Homo sapiens: one gene and its partner. The protein of the gene in region 2 interacts with the protein of the main gene of each other region in a pairwise test. Each region holds a gene or a part of one and is shown on either strand. Other genes may lie near its edges. The genes, in order: ARHGEF11 and PLXNB2.

The links.
Region 1: the proteins of PLXNB2 (region 2) and ARHGEF11 interact in a two-hybrid assay, tested with the Homo sapiens proteins (2 studies listed by BioGRID).

What each region holds. Positions count from the first base shown.
Region 1 is NC_000001.11:156,944,743-156,951,742, reverse strand, and holds part of ARHGEF11 (rho guanine nucleotide exchange factor 11), read left to right. Parts: intron 1-43; coding exon 44-170; intron 171-1,725; exon of another isoform or gene 1,726-3,117; coding exon of another isoform or gene 3,118-3,170; intron 3,171-3,223; coding exon of another isoform or gene 3,224-3,244; coding exon 3,245-3,424; intron 3,425-3,514; coding exon 3,515-3,562; intron 3,563-3,786; coding exon 3,787-3,974; intron 3,975-4,292; coding exon 4,293-4,439; intron 4,440-4,727; coding exon 4,728-4,807; intron 4,808-4,955; coding exon 4,956-5,081; intron 5,082-5,580; coding exon 5,581-5,698; intron 5,699-6,545; coding exon 6,546-6,724; intron 6,725-7,000. UniProt on the Homo sapiens protein: May play a role in the regulation of RhoA GTPase by guanine nucleotide-binding alpha-12 (GNA12) and alpha-13 (GNA13). Acts as guanine nucleotide exchange factor (GEF) for RhoA GTPase and may act as GTPase-activating protein (GAP) for GNA12 and GNA13.
Region 2 is NC_000022.11:50,296,405-50,311,848, forward strand, and holds the start of PLXNB2 (plexin-B2 isoform 3 precursor), read right to left. Parts: upstream 11,243-15,444; 5' UTR 11,149-11,242; intron 7,418-11,148; exon of another isoform or gene 7,075-7,417; intron 5,266-7,074; exon of another isoform or gene 5,059-5,265; coding exon of another isoform or gene 4,943-5,058; intron 4,108-4,942; exon of another isoform or gene 4,094-4,107; intron 3,932-4,093; exon of another isoform or gene 3,722-3,931; intron 161-3,721; exon of another isoform or gene 29-160; intron 1-28.

The DNA of each region.
Region 1 (7,000 bases), on a different chromosome or scaffold from region 2:
TGAACAGCAAGCCTAGTGTCCTTCATTTTCTTTTTGCTTCTAGTCAAACCAGGCAATGTGAGGAACATCATTCAGCACTTTGAGAACAACCAGCAGTATGATGCCCCAGAACCTGGGACACAACGACTCTCGACCGGAAGCTTTCCTGAGGACCTGCTGGAGAGTGACAGGTAGCACTGGCTGGATGGGACTCGCCAGCTGCTCGAAGAGTGGGTCATGGGCAGGGCTGATGCTAGGGTTTAATTCCAGCTACTTGACCCCTCTCCACTAGCTTCTAAGGCTCCCTTTACAGAACTTCCTCCCCACCCCCAGTATCTTCAGGAGACACATTGTGTGCCAGTGAACAGGCCAGTGGAAGAGCAAGCAGATCCCCGACTTCCAGCCCAAGAACTACACACTTTTCAAATTCCCTTTGGATTTATCACCTGACTACTCAGTAGCCTTCATCCAAGATCGAGCTAGGTGATAAAAAGCAGCTAATCAGGAAACCCTAAGTGACAAGGATAAGGAAGACTATAGTGGGGGCAAGAGGGAGTCCTGGGGAAAAAAGACCCAGGCAGGCAAAAGAAAGTGGTTTCCTGTCTGTATGTGAAGAAGAGAGCCAGAGATGAGGTTCTGCTGGGTACTTTAAAGACAAATGATGTAACTATAGGCATCAGATGTCCACCTCAGCAAAGAGAGGCAAAGTGGATTGATTACAAATGGACTGTTTTTCCCTTTTCAAGAAGAAAAAGGGGAATTGAGACTGGCATCTCTCATATTCTTCTTTGGTCAGGTTCTAACTAGAGTCCCCATCTGGTATGAAAACTTGTTCTTGGACTTACTTGCTCTTGATTGTGGCATGACAGCAGTCAAGTCATGTCTAAAATTCTATAGCCAACACTTAAAAACCAACACCACCCTTAAAGGTGACTTAAACAGGTAGAGTAATATGGTCTTGTGTGGGGGGAAATAATGCTTGTGTACAGTCAAGCCTCAGAGCCACTGAGCTGGAGTATAGGCAGGCATGAAAGCAAGTCAGTATGCAGCAGCGTGGATATTCAAGCCATTTTGCCTTCGTTTGTTTGTTTGTTTGTTTTGGGGATTTTTTTTTCTTTTTTAAAGAGACAGGATCTTTCTCTGTCACCCAGGCTGGATTGCAGTGGTGCAATCATAGCTCACTGCAGCCTCAAACTCCTGGGTTCAAGGGATCCTCCCACCTCAGCCTCCTGAGTAACTAGGGATACAGGCATGCACCACTGCACCTGGCTAATTGATTTTTATTTTTATTTTTTTGAGACAGTCTCACTATGTTGCCCAGCTTGGTCTCGAACTCCCAACCACAGCAATCTTCCTGCCTCAGCCTCCCAAAGTGCTAGGATTATAGGCATGAGCCACTGCACCTGGCCTATTTTGCCTTTGAAATAACTAATTATCAAACCATAAGCCAACCTTTCCTGCTTGAATGCAGGTTACTCCTTTCTGTTTATATGAAGCCTTTTTTCAGCTTAACACGTGTTAAAAGATTTTGCTGCCATGAGAATTGACAGATTTACAGGAGACAAAGGTTAGATTTGTACTGGGGGAAGGTTGAGTTCTAACATTAATGGGTAAGTTAAATACGCAAATTATGTGATTCCTGTGGAAGCACATGATGTCGTAGATATATCAAATATTTTAAGATTATAAGACATCAACATTTTGAGAAAATATTTGAGACCATTTACAAAGTTGCATTCTTGGCATTGCTAGGTAAATTTGCCCTAAGACACTTGCTAGGATCCTAAAGCTACTCTAAGCAGAAGCCTTTGGGTTTGATGATTATCAACTCATTGGCAATCTCAGAAGAAATAGTATTAGCAATATGGTGGGTCAGAGATTGTTGTAGATACTCAACAGGTATAAGATGCCCCAGTTCTAGAAGGCAATACCCTAGGAATTTGGGGGCAAAGACAGATGATATGCCTCACTTCTTGGTGAGGAGCATTACTTACTTCTGGGTGCTTGAAGGAAGGTGCTTAGCTCTGCAGCCCCAGTAACTCCACTGGGTGTTTGTTGTGGTGGTACAGTGACCCATTAGGACACTGAAAAGTGTTCCGAGTTAGTCTGGGTTGGGATTGTTCTAACACAATTCTGGAGGGTGAATTCAATAAGGGATCAGTGGGCAGTATGTTTTCTAACCCTGCAGACAAAACCCTCAGGACCCTAGGAGATGAGCTCCATTTTGGATCATCTGGCAGTTTGGGCACAATGAATGGAGACCGAGACATTTAGCTCCTCATTGCAGCAACCTGCTGTGCTATTAAGAGCTCTGCAGACATTTCCAGGCCTCCTGTGGTCCTAGAAGCAGAGCAGGATGTAGATTACTAATAATATCAGAAAACCAGCCCAACAGGGCCACAGCATGGAGGTGGGGTGACCATCCTGGGGCAGCTAGGGGTCAGAGGTGCCAGCTGTCTTGGGCTGATGCACTGCAGGACTCGACACCGCAACACCCAGTCATCAGCATCTCATCAAACCCCAGAGACACTCAGTAGCCAAGCACGGCAGGCCAAGGAGCGGGTCCTGCCTATCAGTAAAAAGGCCCCTTTAAGCACAAGCCTGTCTGCTCTTGAGAGGAAATGGAATCTTAGGAACAGTATTGTTAAGATAAGAATGGAACTCATCCACATCACAACTGGAAGGCTAAGAATCCAGCAGCAGATAGAACTTTCTGACAGGCAGTGTGGAAAATCCTAAAATGAGCTGTGAATATAGTGACTCCACTTTCCTCTTAAGACCTCTTAAAAGAGGTTCGCCTCAGGCAGAGTTAAAGGTGGGAGCTGACCCGTTCCAAAGCAGAGGCAACGTGAACTGGCCACTAGGGGCAGGGAGCTGGGACCTTGTGTTCCCTGTTGAGGGACGATGATGTCTACCACCTTCTTGACAGAAGCATGGTGTCTCAGGCCTCTGGACACACTACAACTCAGAGTCTGTTAGCCCCAGATTTCATCTTCCTGTTAGGATCCCTTCCTAATAGCTCCAGAGGAAGATGACTGTCCATCCATCAGGCTAGGCTGGGGAGAGAGGAGGAGTTTGTAGAGCAGCAAAAATAGTCTGTCATTGAGAAGCTTCCACTGCCATCCAGCTGCTTTGGCCATGTTCAGGAGGAGAACCTGTGGCACGGAGGCATCTTTGAGATGGAGCCACAGGTAAGAGTTAGCCAGGATGTAAGCATGGCCCACTGACTTCCCAAGTCCCAAAGTCTTTTGTCCCTTCCCCCCAGTTCACGCTCAGAGATTCGCCTGGGCCGCTCTGAAAGCCTCAAGGGCCGGGAAGAGATGAAACGGTCTCGAAAGGCAGAGAACGTGCCCCGCTCTCGCAGTGATGTTGACATGGATGCTGCTGCGGAGGCTACTCGCCTGCACCAGTCAGCCTCGTCCTCTACCTCCAGCCTCTCCACCAGGTGGGCAGGGCTACAACGGCTGCACCCATGGACATCTCAGGGGTGGCGGCAAGGATAGAGGGTTGCTGAGAGTTGACATTCCCTCCACAGGTCTCTTGAGAACCCAACCCCTCCATTCACTCCCAAAATGGGCCGCAGGTAAGTGATGGGCACGGTGGTGCCTCTGTTTGGTGTCTCTGTGTCCCATCCACACCCAGCTGCTCCTCTCACCTGCAAGGGGCTGGTTGGGTGGCTGTCTCCTCTTCTGGGCCCACTGGTTTCCCATGTGCATGGGGCAAGCAGGTCGGGCAGGAGAGGGAGGGCCAAACCCTCTGTGTGAGTTCTTCCTCCTAAATGAAGCTGAGCTGCCTGTTTTCCCCCAGGAGCATTGAGTCCCCCAGTTTGGGGTTCTGCACAGATACCCTCCTTCCCCACCTCCTAGAGGATGATCTGGGCCAGCTGTCTGACCTGGAGCCAGAGCCAGATGCCCAAAATTGGCAGCATACAGTGGGCAAGGATGTGGTGGCTGGGCTAACCCAGCGGGAGATTGACCGGCAAGAGGTCATCAATGGTGAGAACGTGCTCCACTGCCCCCAGCTCCGCTCACACGTGTGGGAATAGGTCCAGAATGCCTAAGACACAAGGGTGGGAAAGAGGTAAATAGGGTGGGGGGCCCCTGTGTGCTGGAGCAGGTCCACATTGCCTGTTGCTATAAGGTTCCCCTCAGTTCTGGCCCTTGGAGTAAGAGAAAAGTTGCTGTATGATCTGAAACTGGCACTTCAGTTCCCCCAAAAATAGAGTGGTGTGGGAACCAGGTCAGGGACTCTAGATACTTGCTGATCCGTTTTCTCCCTGGCTTTCTACCCTCCTTGTCACAACCACCGCTCAGAGCTGTTTGTGACTGAAGCTTCCCACCTGCGCACACTCCGGGTCCTGGACCTGATCTTCTACCAGCGAATGAAGAAGGAGAACCTGATGCCCCGGGAGGAGCTGGCCCGGCTCTTCCCGAACCTGCCTGAACTCATAGAGATTCACAGTAAGGAGCCTGTGCCCCTCCAGACTCCTCTTCTGCTGCCCTTCAGCTTCCTGTTCCACTTTGGCCCCACTGCCAGGACCTCCCTGAGTAGGTAACCTCCCACCAATCCCTGGTGAGAAAAAGATCTGTGGACAGCCTGAAACCAGCACTGGAGTTCACCCCGAAAGTACAATGGTTTCCAGACCCTTCCCATGGCACTGCTGTCAGAGATTCACTTCTCTCTGTCAGAAAGGTTCTGGCAGTTGAGCTCAACCCCAGGCATTTCTATTTGTTCTCTTCCTGCCCCAGATTCCTGGTGTGAAGCCATGAAGAAGCTCCGGGAGGAAGGCCCCATCATCAAAGAGATCAGTGACCTCATGCTGGCCCGGGTATGGCTCCAAACTTCTCCCTCTTGGCAAGGAGGAGATTGGGGGAGGCAGGGTCTCATTACCCAAGGCCAGAGAATTTGGCAAAGGCAGGGGTCTGGTCCCAGGCAGGGGTTTGATGCCTGGCCCCGTGTCCATTCTGCCTCTTCAGTTTGATGGCCCTGCCCGAGAGGAACTCCAGCAAGTGGCTGCACAGTTCTGTTCCTATCAGTCAATAGCCCTAGAGCTAATCAAGACCAAGCAACGCAAGGAGAGTCGATTCCAGCTCTTCATGCAGGTGCGTCCTTGGCCATGCCTTGGCCTTCCTTCATCTCCATCAAGGTCACCAAGGATCTCCTGAACTTCTCTCCTTCTGGCCACATCATCCCTGTCTACAGCAACTCCCTCTACCCTTCGACACACGCTCCTCAAAAGCACTGACTCACTCTAGACAAAGAGACTTCTGTTTGTTGGAAAGAATCCTGGATTAGCAGTCAGAGGCCTGGCTCACCCACCAGCACCTGTGTGTCCTGAGATGGATCTCAGTTTCCTTGTCTATAGAATGGCAGCAATATGCCTGCCCTTCTGTTTTGACCATATCCCTTTGGATTGGTGTCTCCCTGCCACCACACACCCTTCTCTACATCTTTAAGGAAGAAGCTTCCACTGCCATTTCTGAGTGATCCATCTGGCGTTAGGACCTGTTTGTCATGTTCACACCCATCTTGGCCCTGAGCCCATAAGCCAGCTCCCAGCCACGCTGACATCTCCTCCCTTCTGTGTCTCCTGCTGTCTAGGAGGCTGAGAGCCACCCTCAGTGTCGGCGGCTGCAGCTGAGAGACCTCATCATCTCTGAGATGCAGCGGCTCACCAAGTACCCGCTGCTGCTGGAGAGCATCATCAAGCACACAGAGGGTAGCACCTGGGGAGGGGCTGGCATCACAGGCAGTGGGCCTCGTGCCAGACCCTCATTCTGACACTGCTTTGTGACCTTAGCAAGTCACTGTGCCTTGTGGTCTTTGGTGTCTTCGTCCTTTTTCTGTTGTGGGGTGTTTCAGAGAAGAAAATGATTGTAAATGTCCTTTGGAAAATATAAGGTGTTTAATAGTGGGAGGAGTAGGGGCCACCATCGAAGGCCACCTGTGTGGGCCTTTGTGCAAATCCAAGGAAAGCATCCGGTGCCCAACACAGGCTGGCACTCAAGGGCACCTGGGTCCCTCTGGTTGCATGGGGCTGGATTTTATCCCCATTCATGCCCCCTGCAGTGCACAAAAGACACAGCCTATGTGGTTACACTAGAGGGGCAGGGGACCAGACTGAACAAGAGGGTCTAGCCTCAGGTTATCACTCTCCCTGGGATCCTGGGCATCTTTCACTACCCCCAAATTTCAGACATTGGAGTCAGGACAGAGAGGTGTTAGGAACCCCAATCTGATTTGAACAGGCTTTCTAGAGGCATAATTGTGGCCATTTACCACAGTCTCTGTCCCTTGCATCTGTAGAGCTGGTTGTAGTAGAGGCAGGGATTCCCAGGAGCTATCAGCGTCTTCAAAGCAGTGATCTGTCTGAGACCTGAAGATGCTCAGTAAAAGTTACCCTTACCACTTGGGGTCCTCATGTGAGGCAAGGGTGGCTCCCCTCCACCCACGCCTGCTGGTTTGAAGCAAGCCAGCTGCCATGGATGAATAGGCAGATAACAGCTGGCGCCATGTTGGACTTCTCAGGCAGGAGCCCCAACCATCTCTTCTGTCCATTTTGGTAGGTGGCACCTCTGAGCATGAGAAGCTGTGCCGGGCCCGGGACCAGTGCCGGGAGATTCTCAAGTATGTGAATGAAGCGGTAAAACAAACAGAGAACCGCCACCGTTTAGAGGGCTACCAGAAACGCCTGGATGCCACCGCCCTGGAGAGGGCCAGCAACCCCCTGGCAGCAGAGTTCAAGGTAGGAGGCAGAGGCTGCAGCAGTCAACCCCTCACACTTTGTGGGTACCCTTAGGAGCAGAACACTGGTCAGGGCTTGGAGAGTCTTAGAGGTAGGAGACAGAGACCAGATAGGGTGGCACAATGGAGCCCCAGAAGACACACACCCTGCTATTGTCACCCTGTCCCTAGATGGACAAGGCAGGCCGCCCCACCTAAGAAAGACTAGATGTTGGAACTCAGCCTGAGAGAGCAGGGGATGGGGTAGAACTGGAGGTAAGGTGGAGATCTTCTGGGA
Region 2 (15,444 bases):
CAAAACACAAGTTTAAGATTATATTTACATATTGCTTGTCTAAATAAGAAGCTGAGCCAGGCACGGTGGCTCACGCCTGTAATCCCAGCACTTTGGGAGGCTGAGGCGGGCGGATCACCTGAGGCTGCAGAGAGCTGAGATCACACCATTGCACTCCAGCCTGGGGAAAGAGCAAGACTCTGTCTCAAAAAAAAAAAAAAAAAAAAAAAGGAAAAGAAAAGAAAGAAAGAAAAGAAGGTAGGCTCCACTCTGCCTCAAGATGTGACTCTCCAGGCCCTCAATAGCCACCCCTACAACCAAGGTTCAGCTACTGAATCCTGCTCAGGCCCCAGAGTCCACTGCAGCCTGGCCAGGTTGTGTGCCAGCAAAGCACCTCCTCCCGCAGGGCCAGGCCCCACTCTCCTCCCACCCCACCGGGATCCTCATGTGCCCTGTGCAGCGGGACCCGGGGTTGGACATGCAGTGACACCAGCAGGGGGGCGGCGGGAAGGGAGGTGAGCTCCACAGCTGTGCATGGACTGTGCTACCCTGCTGCACAGGTAAGGGTTAACCCGGCCAAAGGGCTGGGGAGAGGATGAGGTTTCGGGGGGCAGAGGGCATCCTTTCGACCTGAGACTCAACAGCACCTTTGTGAAAAGGGCAAAAGGCTGCTCCTCTGGCAAACTCAGGAGCCAAAGCACAGGGCAGCACCGGGTCTCCTGAGAAAGCTGGGACCCGCGGGGACTGGAGACTGCAGCTCCCGACGGAGGTGGCAGCCATGGCGGTGGCACGGTACCCCCAGACCTGCCATCTTGAAGGGACGCCACACCGGCCTGTGTGCCCCATGCCCACTCCCTGCAGCACACCCCCAGGCTCCAGCCTCCACGGGCCCAGGCCCCAGGCGTGGGCGGGGGCAGCCAAGGTCAGGGGAGGCTGGCTTCTGTCCCGCCCATCCCGCACGCCCTCGAACAACCTCCCCTGAGTGATCGATCCACTCAGGAAGCCAGAGGCAAGACCCATACTCCACTCTCCTGGAGGAGGCTTTCTGCCGTCCTCTTCCCTGGCCCTCACCGTGGAGAACGGCCATGGATTTCCCCTCCCAGAGAATAACACCATGATCCCTCCACCCTCAGTCTGGGGCCCTTCCTGGCCCAAGTCTACCTCCTCTGCCCGGCCTCTGGCTTCTCCCACCTCCATCCATCTTGCCCTCAACACTGAGCCAGGCTCCATCTCCTGCTCACAAGATTCCCGCTTAGCTACCCCAGAAAAAGGAGTTTCTTCCTTAGGTGGCTGTGGTCACACCTGACGCTGCTGCACCCAGGGACCTCGAGGCCTGAAGTCCAGAGCCAGACCAGTGAGTTCACACCCCAGCTCTGTCACGTTCTAGCTGGCTCATGTGGGCCATTCAGAAAGCTGCTCTGTGCCTCAGTTTCCCCATATGTAACCTGGGGGTCATTATGGCGCCCACCTCAGAGGGCTGCCTTGAGGTTGAGTGGGTGTGGAAATCTTTACAGCTGTGCCCACTCAGAGAACGCTGCCTCACGACATTCCCACGTCCATGTTCACTGTGCTCCCTGGAAAGCCCCTGCCCATCCTTTAGACCCCGAGACACCCTCCCTAACCCAGCCCCTGAGGGACTGGCCTTGCTCTGTGGTCTATGGTCTTCCCCGACAGGCCCCGGCTGCCCCGCCGCCCTGCCCCAACAAGTCCAAACACTGGATCTGGTCACTGGGCACCTGCCGGTCCAAACTCAGTGAGCCGGGAAGGGGTGGTGACATGCAGGGGCGCGAGCCCAGAAGACCTGTCCCCGCAGGTCACCCCCAGGCCAACAGAGCAGAAGGGTCTCCTCCCCCAACCAGAACTCCGATGTAGGCCAAGGGCAGCACAGGGATGCTGGGCCTCCCCTCTACAACCTAGACAGCCTGGGAGGCAGCAGGAGCTGCTTGCTGGCTGGGCACCTGTGGCCCTCTCCTGAGGTCCCTTTTGTTTTTTTTTTCTGACCAGCAGCCCCCAGGCCCCTTGCACGGGCTGAGTCTGGCCCCCGCCCCTCCCACTGGGTAAAGGTAAACAAGAGGCATGTAAGGGGGAAGGACAGAGCCCTACTCCAGATGAGGCCAAGAGTGGGGGCTGCCAGGCCCCCAAACTCCTGCCAGCCTTGGTTCTGAGACCGCCCCAAGTCTTGGCTGCACTGCGGGGTGGTTCCAGTGGGGACTAAAATTGGGAGTTCTCTGCCTTTCAGTATTTTCAAGCAAACAGACTGGGCCATTCTTTTCTTTTTTCTGAGACAGGTCTCACTCTGTCACCCAGGCTGGAGTGTAGGGGCATGATCTTGGCTCACTGCAACCCCTGCCTCCCAGGTTGAAGCAATTATCCTGCCTCAGCCTCTCCAGTAGCTGGGACTACAGGTGCACGCCACTATGCCCAGCTAATTTTCTGTATTTCAGTAGAGATGGGGCTTCACCGTGTTGCCCAGACCGGTTTCGAACTCCTGAGCTCAGGCAATCCACCCGCCTTGGCCTCCCAAAGTGCTGGAATTACAGGCGTGAGCCACCACACCCAGCCAGACTGACCATTCTTAATGCTAAAATCAAACCAGCACAAAGCAGTCAGGCCCAGTGGGAGGGCAGGCCCAGCTTGGGGGCTGCTCTTGGCCAGGCCAGGCTGTGGGCTCTGGCACGGGAACCAGAGAGGGCAGGGGCCAGAGGAGGTGCATGGGCAGCGGCCCGGCAGGGGCCAAGATGGGGATCCAGGCAGCAGCCGCCATGAAGAACGAGGAGAGCTCGGGCCTAGGCCTGGGAGGGCAGGAGGGGGTGGCATGAGCACCTAGGACATGGGCGGTGGAGAAGGCAGAGGTCCTAGGGCTGTGCGGCCCTCCAGGGCTCAAAGGATTGGGGTGGACACAGGCCCTGCGTGGGGTGGGGGGGGGGCCCGGTGCGGGGGCGGGGGAAGCAGCCTCGGACCAAGTGAGCGATAGGCTGCCCCAAGCACAGGCCAAGGCGCGTCTGAGAGTGGCTGTCCCGGAACGGGGCGACAGGCGTCACAGAAAAGCCACGGAGGCCCCGGAGGCCCCGCAGCCAGCAGCCAGGGGGCCGGGCCAAAGCTAGCGACACACGCAAATCTGCAATTATCCCAGAGCGCTAAACACATCAGAGGAAACAAAACAGACGCGCCGGCGAATCCCAGCCTCCGCTGTTTTCAAAACAAGCGCGAGGGGGGTGCCGCGGGGCGTGGGGCTGGGGGGTCGGCAAGGACCCCGGCCGCCCCTTCCCGCAGCGCCGCGCCCGTGGGTAGGCGCGGGGAGGGACTGGGTGGAGAGCGCGCGGGAGACCCGGCGAGGGCGAGACCGGCGGCCCCGCCACCCAGCCCCACCCACCGGTGACCCGGGTCAGAGTTCAGCCCGGGAGGCGGGGGGCGGTGTCTCCTGGGTGGGTCTGCGAGCCCGGTACCCGGCCAGAGCCAAAGGCGGGCACCCGGCCTGTGTGGAGCGCCCTGGACTATTCCTCGCAGGCCGACCCAGGTGGCACAGCCCCTCCCCCGGCGCCGGCACCGCCAGACTCCCCGGAGGGCGCAGAACGGTTGCCCGGGAGCCAGGGGCAAAGCGCGCCCGGGGCCAGGAAGCGCAGGGACTAGGCCCGCGCCTCCTCGGCGCCGCCCACTGCCCCCCGCGAGCCCAAGCTCCACGGCCACCGCCCGCGCCCTCCCGGGGACTCCGGCGCCCCGTCCGCCCCTCGGCCTCGCGCACCTGGAGGGAGCACGTGGCCGCCTCTGGGACAAACCTCACCAGGCCGGGGGCCCAGGACGCGCGGGCGGGTGGGAGTCTGACCCGAGTAACAATGACGGCGGCGGCGACAGTCACACGAGCGCAGGAGACGTCGTCCCCGCGGGGCGCTCACCTGGCGTCGGGCACATCGGATCGCACAGCCGGCCATTACCTAAGTCCTCCGAGCCGTGGAAGGGGCGCGGGGAGCAGCTCCGCCCCGCCGATGGTGGCTCCGCCCGTGCCCCCGGTCGGTCTCAGGGCTCGGCCCCTCCCGGCCCAGCTGCCAATCATGCACGACCCTGCCCGGAGCAGCCTCCCGCAGGACTCCGGACCCAGGGTCAAGGCCAGACTCACCCGAGGCAAAGGCCGAACGCTCCCGGCACAACCCGACCTAGGAGCTGGGGCGGGGCGGGGCGGGGCGGGGCTCCAGGGACAGACTGATGTGGAGGCCTGAGCCTCGCTTCAGCGTCTACAGCGGTCCCCGCTGGACTCTCGGCTGAGGACCCCTCCCAGGTGGAGGCCGTCGCACCCCTTCCCCGCCAGCCTGGTTTCAGGGTGGGGTTCCTACTTAGGGCCAGCCTCCCCTGCAGTCTGGGCTCTGGGTCCCAGCAGGAAAAGTCACCCTGGCTGGTGGCAGTGATGGGGTCACCAGCCCAGGATCCTGGGGGTGCCCCATGAAGCCCCAGCTCCTCCTGTCACTTGCTCCAGCCGAGTTAGTCACAGCCCCCACTGGTCCACACCTCCTGACACACCCAGGCCACCTGGTACCCAGGGCCTCTGTATCTAGCCCTGGCCCTCAGGCACCCCCTGAGCTCACCTGGCCATGCCCAAGGGGCCTGCCCCAGCCCCCTCTCCGCCTCTGCACCAAGTGCAGCCCCTGTATATGGTGCGTCCCTAGACTGGGGCCCCAGGCTGCCCTCCCATCCTACACACAGTTGTGAGGCCCTCCTCAGCCTCCTCTCTGGCCACGGCCCACTGGCGCATCTGGAGGATGGTCCTCCCCAGCCCTCAGACAGAAGGTGGGATCCAGTTGGCTACGGCGCCCTGTCCCCACACGCACCAGGCCTGCAGAACCACCTCTCTCCTCAACCACCCCTTTCGGGGTCCCAGACCCCATCCTGTCCAACCTGGGCACAGCTGCAGCCCCCTCTTGCTACACCGTGGTCCTTCGGGTCAGAAAGCTGGGCAGCGCAATGAACCTACCGATGTCTCCGTGCTTCCTGAGGACCTCCTGTGGGAGGGGTGGGCACCGCCAGGCGCTCGGGGCACACGAGGCCGATGGCTACAGCAGGAACCACCAACTCATCAGGACAGGACATGCGGTCAGACAGCAGGCGGCCACGGAGGGACTCTCGTGGGATTCTGGGGCTCAGTCACTTGGAGTCTCTCCTGAAAGGAGGCCTCCCGGCCCGCCGGTGCCCAGCCCCACCTGCAGGCTCTCCTCTGAGTGGCCCCCACGCATCTCCCCCTTTCCAGCTCAACCCCGCAGCAGCCGGCTGCTCAGAGACCAGGTCCTGCCTGGATGCAGCTGGCTCAAGACCAGCCCCCGCCCACAGCCCCCTTCTCACCCCCGGGGTGGGCGTTGGGGGGTGGACGGGTGAGGCCCCAGCCAGTGAGCAGTAAGCAAGGCCTGTAATCTCCCCGTCAGCCTGTCAGCGCCTCAGCGGTCACCCCAGCCCCGCCTCGCCCATCACCGCTGAACCCCACAATTAGCTTGGGGCACCGCGCCAAGCCTGTGTGCCAGACACCACTTGCACACATGACCACACATGTGCAGACACACATGGCTGGGTGCTGCCGGAAAAGCCCTGCCAACAGGGTCTCACCCCAACACCCAGAACTCGTCCCCAGTACAAAGAGCCTGGGAGAGAAGCCTCAGGCCGGGGCACTTGGGCTAAGAGGGGCAGTGGGGCTCTCAGAACCCAGCGCTGCCTGGAGCCCCGAGGGAGGGGCCATGTGTGGCATGGGGAAGTGGGGTGGGGGCAGGGCCGTCTCAGCAGGGGAGAGGGGCTGCGTCTGCCCAGGATGAGCTGGGGGCTGGTGAGGCACAGGGTGTTGGGCAGGACCTGGGTCCAGGCCAAGGGTGAGGCAGCCCAGGGTGTGGGCTGGGCCCCACAGGGGCAAACACTCAGGGCTTTGGGAGGCCAGAGGGACAGGGATTTCCCAGTGAGGAAATGCCCATCTCAGAGTGGGGGCAGGACAGTGAGTGGGAGGTGATGCCCGTGGCTGGAGCTGTGTGGGGAGGTGGGTGCCCCTGGAGGCCAGGTCCAGCCCCTTGCTCCACGCGGAGGCTTGCTCTGCTCATGGTGGAGCTGAGGACTTCAAACCCCACAGGGCCTGGTCGAGAGCCACTGGGCCCCAGGTCTAGATGTGGAACTGGGGGACCCTCCAGCGAGCTTTGCTGGGCCTGGGCGGCCTGCCTGGGGCGCCCCACCTTCACGCCCTCCTCCCTAACATCCTTTTCTCCTGAAGTCCCTCAGGGTGGTCACCAGATCAGGCTCGGTGCCAACATAGGAGTGGGGAGGCCAAGCCCCTCAGCTCCCCTGGCCAATCTCTGAGGCTGAGAGGGAGTGGGGGGGGCCATGCTGGAGCACCTCCCTCCCACCACCTGCCCCTTGCCCCTGTCAACTGCTGGCTCCACTTAAAATAGCTTCTCCCCCTCGCTGGTGGGAGGGAGGCCCTGGTGTCAAGCCGGTAAGGCTGGAGCAAGGCTGGGCACAGGGCCTGGGCTCAGCAGTGTTCTGTGCCCTCCATCTCCTCCAAAGCAGGCCCCAGCTCTGAAAACACACCTGACAGGGCTGGGATCCACAGAGTCCTCACCTCCTGCTGGTCCTCAAACCCCACTCTCCATGGCTGGGTCCCTGAAATACTTGGATTACCCTCAAGCCCCCCGCCATCCCCCCAAGCTGTGGCTCCCATGCCACCCTACCACGTCTGAGTCACACAGGCCCAGGCCTCCCTTGCTTCCCCCAGGAGAGACCCCCCCACACTCCTGCTTCTGGCCTGTCCTCAGAGCCCCAGAACTCACCTAGGTTCAAAGCCAGACCCCAGCTGAGGACAGAGCATGGACCCCAGGCAAATGCAGTGACAATCACAGAGCACGCTCCTACCACAGCCACCCACGCAGCCTGAGGCATAGCCCCCTGGAAACTGCCTCGGCCTTCAGCACCCCACTTTGGACCAGCAGGGCAGGGGGGTTCCTCCTCTGAGAAGTCCTCAAAGCTGCCTGGAAGGAGCAGACAGTGCCCCCAGACGCCAATCTGACAGGGGGCCCAATCTGTCTCTGAGCAGGTGGCATGCTGGCTCGGGGGCCCCAGACCACAACAGAAGGTCACCTGGGAAGAGAGCCGCAGCCCTACACAAGGCTCGTGGGCAGGAACCGTCCCAGCCACAGGAGCAGACGCCCTTGCCTGGCCCCTCAGGGGGCCGTGTTCACACAGGAGGCCTTCTCAGAGGTGGACACCAAGCACTTCTCTCTCTTGCGCTTGCTGCGGGACTCAGCTGGGGCAGCATCAGGCCCAGAAATCGGTGCTGGACACTGTGTCTCCACACAGGGCCCCCCATGGAAGCTGCTGACCAGCTGTGCCAGAGGGGCCGGGGCCCTACCCCCAGGAGCCCAGTCCCTGCCTCTGATGCTGCTGCTGCTGGGACCCTGCTGGCAGAGCTGGTGGCTGAACTGGGGCAGCACCTCCCTCTCCTGCCCCAGGCCTGGGCCGGGACTCAGCTGGCACTGGAATGAGGAACTATTGGCTTTCAGAAGCCAGGAGACCTTAGGGGGCTGAGGAAGAGAGCTGGACCTGCCCCCAGGCGCCCTGATCCCAGCCCAGGGCAGTCTCCTCCCTCACCTAGCCTGGGACATGAGGCAGCTCAGGTGTGGCCTTAGGGGCTACCCCCAGGGAAGGCCACCAACCATAGCGGGCCACGGTGTGGGCTGGCCTCTGGGTGTGAAGGGCTCCAGGATCTGGGCTGCAGAGGCGGGACTGTGCGAAACAGAACCCCCAGCTCCACAGCCAGGCCAGCCCCAGGCTCCTCCCCAGACAGACATCCCCGGGGGTGGGGCAAACCTGCAGTACCACCAGGGGCAGCCTGTCCCACCATCCCCGGCACCACTGGGCCTGGGGCCAGTCACTGTCACAGGTTCATGAATCTCACAGGGCAGGGTGGATCCACTGGGGGGGTGCGGGGTGCCAGTGTTCAGGGCCAGACGGGAGGGGCCCAGCCAATCCCTTCACACGCTTGGTCTTCAGAGAGAAGGCTTCTGAGCCAGGAGGGCCACTGTGTCAGGGCCTGGCTTGAGGCCACACCTGTGGCTGGGGGAGCCCAGAACAGTGCAGGGTCCTTCCCTGGTAGGCAGAGAAAGGCAGGGGTCCTTACAATCCAGGGGTATGGGAAGAAGCAGGCCCTGTGTCAAGGGATGTGAAACCACGGAAAGGAAGAAGGTGGAGGAACCTCGACCAGAAAGAGGGAAGCTAGGGCAGCTGCCTCCCCGGGGCCCCAGAGCCTGAGCACCCCCCACCAGCCAAGGCTCTGACCCACCCTCCCCATCGTGTAATTAGTCAGAGACCCAGCCCCACCCCACCCACAGCCCCACCCCAAACACAAACAGCCACTACCCCTGAGGGAGGGAGGGGCTGTGGCCAGTCCCAGCCCTACTGAATCTCCCACCCCCAGAGAACCTGGATCTGCCTCAGAGAAGGGAGGTCAAGGCTGGGGGGCCACTTGCTGGCCACTGGGTGAATTCTGAGCAGCTCACCACCTCATCCCCAAACCGTGTCCAAGGCAGGCTCTGGGCACAAGAGGTTCCCCGCCAACTTCCAAGGAGGGCGGCCAGGCTGCAGCCAGAGGGACGGAGGCATGAGCTGAGTGAGAACTCCCAGCTCAGGGGAAGGCAGCCCTCGTGGCAGAGGCCTGGCATCCAAGTGCCTGCCTAGCTCAGAGAAGGCACAATATGAGGGGCCGGAAGACACAGCCTCTCCCAGCCAGTGCACCCCTGCCCACGCCCGCGTCCCAGGGGGACCATCAGCTGTGGCTGGCACAGGGTGAGGCAGGGGGCAGGACACGGTGAGCACGGACGACGTCCTGGGATGGGAGGAGGACTGTGCCATATGGGCCCTCCCCACCACCTTCCAATCCAATCTCTTCTGCTCCACTTCCCTGGGCCGGGTCCAAGGCTCTGGGCTTTCTGCACTTGGGGCCAGCTGCCGGCTCCTCCTCCCCGATGTGGTCCCCATGCAGGCCGCCGGGCACACACCCCGGGCGCACACACAGCATGGACCCAGAGCGCCAGGTAGCCACAGCCCTGGCCACACAGCATCGCAGATGACTCCTCACATAGACCTATCTCTGGCCTCAGTCTCCCCACCTGCAGGATGGGCTCACAGGCGCCATATCCAGAGGGGGTCGTAGGCAAGGACTGGCTGTCGGAGGGGCTTGGAGGGAGGCTGGTCCGTTAGTCAGGAGCTGAATAGGGAGTCCGTTGGGGCAGGAGGGCCCCCTGAGGGAAACCCCAGTGCCCTCCCTAGCAGCCTAGCCTCGCTCCTGCCTGCTCCTCCCTGGCACGCACAGGTCACTGGCACAGGGTGTGTCCCTGAACTTGGGCCTGGAGGGTACCTCAGAGGCTCTTCAGACCACCATTGAGACTTCTCGGGGCGAGGGGGTCCCTGGGTGGGGCGAGGGGGTCCCTGGGTGGGCCCAGAGCTCCTCCTGTTCCATGGTCTCCCCCAGAGGGGCTTGGGCCCACTGCAGGCTCAGCAGGGCCTGCTGGGGCCAACCTTGGGGCTTTCTCCAACCCAAAGGTGACGCATCTTCTCCCCGCCCAGTCTGGGCAGCTGCAGTAGAAAGTGGCAGAGCTGCCCGGACTTGCCCGTCCTCCTCCTGGGGCCCTCAACCCACGTCCCGGAAGTGGATCCTTCTCCCACGCTGCAGCCTCCCGCTTCGGGTGACTGGACACGGCTGGATGATCCAAAATAATTCTTTCTTGGCAGGCAGCCGGTGGGGGAGGGGGACTCACATTCCAAACCCTTGTTTTTCTCAGTAACTTCCCTCCTCTACTGGGGCAAGGAACCCCTGGCCAGACCTCAGGCCTCCCAGACCCCCCGGGACAGAGGTGGGCCCCCCATAGGTACCGTGGGAGGACTCAGATGTGCCAGGCCCACCTGCTTGCTTCTCAGTCGGCTCTGGGGATTTCTATGCAACATGCAAAAAGCTGACTCGCCACAAACCTATGCCTGCTGGCCCTGCCCTCCGGGAGACCCTCACCTCTGGACAGGAAAGGGAGGGCTCCTCCCACCAGCTGTTCAGCTGTTCCGTGCCAGGGTCATCTGGGCATGGGGCAGGCTGAGAGCCCCCACTTCCCGGCAGCCTCGCTCTCCCACCCGCAAAGGGCTCCTGAGGAAGCTCAACTTTAAAGCCTCACAGGCTGCGCCGAACCTCCAAGCAAGGGCCGAAGTCAGACATTAAGTGGGGAGGGCGGGGGGGTCCAGGGAAGGTGGGGCACAGGGAGCCCTCCAGGCCGCCGGGATCTGCCGGGTTTGGGGCCCACCCTCACCCTCACCCTCACCCTCACCCTCACCCTCACCCTCACCCTCACCCCCTGTCCTGACTCTGCCACAGCCCACAGTGGGCAGACGGACCCCTTTCTTCCTTTCCCAGGGAGCTTCGGGAAGAGAAATCAAGGGCCTGGCAGGAAGCCCCAGGGCGTCCGGGCTCTGAGACCCCCAGATGACAGGGGGAGGCGGGCTCCCCAGATCTGCCGAATAGCCCGACCAGGGGCGCTGGCAGGGCAGGGGCTTCCTGCAGGAGCAGGGTGCGGAGGGGCAGGGTCAGCAGGGGACAGGCAGGGCTCGCGCCCCCGCTTCTGAGACTTTCTGTGTCTCGGGGTGTCCACCCAGACGCCACTCTGGGAACCGCGAGGAGGCCCAGGCAGTGGGGTCTCGCCAGGTGCGGGTGCTCTCCGCCCTGGTCCCCCCGCGCCAAGCAGGCCCCAGGGGGTGCGGGGACGGCCCCCGGGAGCTCGGGCAAATCCAGGCTCCTGTGCCGCTGAGCCTGGGGCCGGCCCGGAGCGCCCGCACCGCGAGACCATCTCCGCTCGGCGCACGGAGCTCGGCGGCTGAAGAGTGAGAGGCAGGCGCGGAGGAGGGATCCGACGCGGCTCCGGAGGGACGCGCAGCCCCCGCCGCCGGGCCCGTCCCCCGAGTCAACACCGGGAAGGGAGTGGGGCGGCAGCGGCCCGGGCCTCGCCGGATGGACCGACGGACGGGGCCCAGGCCCCGGGAGCCCTCCGCGGAGCCGCAGCCGCCGCAGGTCCCCGGGCCCCAGCGCGGCAGGCCCGGGCGGAGCGGCGCTGACGGCGAAGCCCCCCCCACGCCCAGCGAGACGTCCCCCGCAGCCCAGTCCCCCGAGCTCGGTACCTGCACGTCCGCCGCCAAGGCTCGATGGCGCCCGGGCCGCGCTCGGCGCTGCGCTCTGGCCCGCGCTGCTGCCATGGAGACGGGGCCTTTGTGTGGCCGAGGAGGGGCCGGAGCGCGCGGGAGCTGCCGGCCCCGCCCCCGACGAGGGAGAGGAGGGGAGGGCGGGGAGAACAGGAGAAGGGGGGAGAGGGAGAGGGAAAGCGGAGGGGGAGAAGGAGGGGGAGGGGGAGGGGGGAGAGGGGGAGGGGGGAGAGGGGGAGGGGGAAGAGGGGGAGGGGGAGAGGGGGAGGGGGAAGAGGGGGAGGGGGAGGGGAGGGGGAGCAGGAGCGGGGAGGAGAGGGCAGAAGAGAACCGGAGAGGAGGGGAGGGGACGGGAGGGGAGGGGCTGGGCCTGCGCTCCCCGCGCCCCCCACTTCTCCCCTGCCCAGCGGCCACAGCATTGTCTGGTAGGTTCAGGCACCCCAGTTCAGACCCAGGTTCAGCCAGGGCAGCACCCTGCCCACCATGCCGCCGTCCAGGAAGCACGAGCGCCCACAGAGGCCCCATGGCCTGAGCACCCCCACAGGAACCCCGCAGGTCTGAGGGGAGGCCATGGCTTGGTACCAGGGGAGGGCATTATGAGTGCACTCTCGCCTGGCCAGAGGAACGTGAGGGTCCCTGCCAGTCTTGAGATGTGTGGGCACCAGACTCTCACTCCCAGACTGGAAGCATACCAGTCGCTCCCCTGCGGCCTTCAGGGGTGGGGGCTGCTGGGCTTTGGCCCTTTCCCAGGGGTCTCAGGCCCTCAACCTCCCAGGGTAAACTGGGACCTGGAGATGGCCTCCCAGCACATCCCTGGCCTCCAGCAGCACCTTGGGATGCTGCACCCGGGACCCCACCTGGTCCTTCAGGGCCAGGAGGTGGGCGGGCCGAGACCTCTTTCTGGGGGTTCTGGTTTCTGGGACAGAGCTGGCCCCACTTCTGGCATCCCAGGTCCCAAGTCCTGGCCTCAGTGCTCCTAGTGTCCCCTGGGCTTGAGAAGAGGTGGTGAACCGTCTGCAGGGCCAGACCTTGGAGCACGCCTCCACTGCCCTCCCGGAACTGGATGTGCTGAGCAGGAGACAGAAGCATTCCCCAAGCTCTTGCCCCCACCCTGGGTCACCCCTCCCTGGGGCCCGCCTTCCACCCAGACCTGCCCCGTCCTTGCAGCTGGTCAGCTTCCTCCTGTCCCCAGCCAGGCATCCCCTCCTCCTCTGCTTCCCCCACCCGGGATCCGCCCCGCCACATCCTGACAAACTCCCCCAGCCTGACTTAGTTCTTTCAGTCTCTGCCTTCTCCCACCCTCAAGCAGCCAGGCCTTGTTCCTGTCCAAAATCTTCCCTTGGGCCTTGAACCACAATCCACATCACGGCAACCCTACCCTTCACTGCAGAGGACCCCAAAATTACCAGGTTCTGACAAGGTTGCCAACTTTTTATCAAAAAAGGAAAAGACAAGGTCCAGTCACAAAAGGACATTTTAATACCAAAACTGTGGGAAGGCCACTGTTCTAGACTAAAAGGGAGTCTTTAAATAGCCAGCAGGAAGCTTGAGGGTGAGCAGCTGTCCTTCCTGTCCCTGAGCAGGCCCCCTGTGTGCACCCTCAGCCCCGAGCCCCACTCCAGACCTGCTCCCAGCCCTTCCCACCCTCTAGGTTCTGTGGTCCCTGTCCTTCGGGAGGCCTGTGACCACAGCAGTCCTCACCCTCGCCAACTAAGTTCTGCCCAGCAAGCCCTCTTGCCTGCGGGGGCTGGCACTCTGGCCAGGGGTAGAGCTGTCTGGACCTTCCTGCCTCTTCACTGACTGCCCCTGGCCTGGAGTGCGTGGGGCGGGGAGGGCCATGGCCTAGCCCTGGACAGAGGCTCAGCCAACTCAGAGCGGCCCTGACACTGGGGGGGCCACAAGAGGCATCCGGACAGATGGAGCTGGCAGGTCTCCACGCCCAGCCCCCACCCATCCACCCCAGGCCACATTCCACCCCAGGCCTCTTCTGCACAGGTGGGGACAGGCCCTGAGGAAGAGGGGCTGGGACACTACCCCCCACCTTAGCCTTAGCTTCTGCCCAGGGCAATGCTGGCCACCCAGCCCGGTTCCCCCCTCAAGTTCCCCCTTCACACGCCACTATGTGGCCTCACCAGAGCCCTCCAGGGAAATCTGCTTGTGCATTTCTGGATACACAGTGGCCAGGGTCCCTGGGGGCTCCTCAGAGACCAGCCTGAAGCCCCTCCCCTGCAGCCATGTGGGTCTGCAGCCCTCTGTGCTGTGCGGCAGCCCTCAGAAAGCCAAGTGAGGCGAGACTGTGCTGTGGGGAAGCACATGCTGCCACGGTCCTTGGGGTGCGCTCCCCAAAGTGGGGTCACAGTTGTGAGAGAGGTGGGTTGTCTTCCCAAGCTGCCCCGACACCTTGAAGTGGTGGTCCTCAGGGGGCTGGTCACCAGCATAAGGCTTTTGCAGAGGGCCCTGGTGGAGGGCAGCTGATGGCAGGGCCTGTACTGGCCCCCCAGGCCCCATCTTATGGAGGTCAGCATTCAAGCTGCCCACACAAGAGGTGCCAGCATCTCTGCAGACCCTCTAGAGACCAAGCCCTCAGTGGGGAGGCTGGTCCCCCTGTGCTACAGTCAGGAGGCCCAAGCTGCATTTGGGGCCAGGACCTTTCTCACCCTCGGGTCCCCGGCTTGTCCCTGCCACAGAACAGGTTTGCCACCTCGGCCTCTATGTGTTCTGTTTCATGTGGTCACATCCTTGGACCCTGCACCAGACATCTGGGGCTTAACAGCTCCCCTTGGTCACCCTCCCGGCTGCCTCCGCGTCTTGTCTGTAGAATGGGAACAGGGACAGGCTGTCCTGGGCTGCAGTTGGGCTGGACAAGTTGACATGTACCAAGTTCTGAGAACTACCTGGCGCCCGGACACCTGACCCCGCTGTCCTTGTGGCTCAGTCACATCCTGCACTGAAGTGGCTGGCAGTGCTCGCTCTCCACCACCTGGCTGGAGGTCTGAGAGCACCAATGAGAACACAAACAGTACGTTGCGCTGAATGAAGGCTACATTCCTCGGACTGAATGGGGGCCTCAGAAGAAAAAGAAAAGTCCCGGCCGGGCGCGGTGGCTCATGCCTGTAATCCTAGCACGTTGGGAGGCCGAGGCGGGCGGATTACGAGGTCAGGAGATCGAGACCATCCTGGCTAACATGGTGAAACCCTGTCTCTACTACAAATACAAAAAATTAACCAAGCGCAGTGGTGGGTGCCTGTAGTCCCAGCTACTCGGGAGGCTGAGGCAGGAGAATGGCGTGAACCCGGGAGGCAGAGCTTGCAGTGAGCCGAGATCATGCCACTGCACTCCAGCCTGGGCAACAGAGCGAGACTCCATTTCAAAAAGAAAAAAAAAGAAAAAGTCCCTCCCCCAGCCCTGTGTCCCCTGGCCAGCACCCGCCCGGCCTCACAGGGTACAAAGCCCAGTCTCCATGAGTGGCCCTCCCAGCACCCTGTCGGGCATCTGCATGGCTGGCTCGCTCAGATGAGGAGTCTGAGGGTCTGAGTGGTCAGGGGACCTGCTCCCGGGCACACAGTGCGTGATGCTGAGCAGGGCTTGGCTGTCCGGAGCCCTGACAGTACCGTCACTGTGTGCTGTGCAGGGTCAACACCGTACCTCACCGGCCTCAGTGCCTGCAGGTGTCACGGGGGGAGCATACAACCCAGAGGTGGCTCTTAGGGACGTTCACCCCTTACCAAGGAAAGGGAGACATGCAGGCTCCAGCCAGAGGCAGGGTCAGGCCGAAGTCCAGAGCCCCTTGGGCTGCATGTGGGGGATGGACGGACACACTTGGACAACAGGAGCCCTGTCCACCTCCCAGAAGGGACGCACGGAGCTGGTGCCTGGTGGGGGCTCCAGGACTGGGAGCCAGGAAGGTGCTGTGGCTCTCCGAGAGCCAGGCTGAGCCAGCTCTCCTAGCAGAGGTGCTGGGCTGCACACAGCCCCCTGCCCAACCCCTACCTCCCAACAAACCACAGCCCCAAGCAGGTGGGTGTCCAGAGGAGCACCAGGGGTGGTGAGCAGAGCTCTTCACACTGCAAAGTGGTCTCTCCCTTTCTCAAGTTGATGACTATATGCAAAATAGCCTCCCATCCCCAGACAAGACGGGGGCTGTGTCAGGAGAGGGTCCCTCCTGTCCTGGGCAGCCTGTTGGGCTGAGGGAAGCATCACACACAGCGCAGGGGGGTCGGGGGCCAACAGATGGGCACCGGGAGGGGCAGACGGTAGACGCACCCACATCAGCA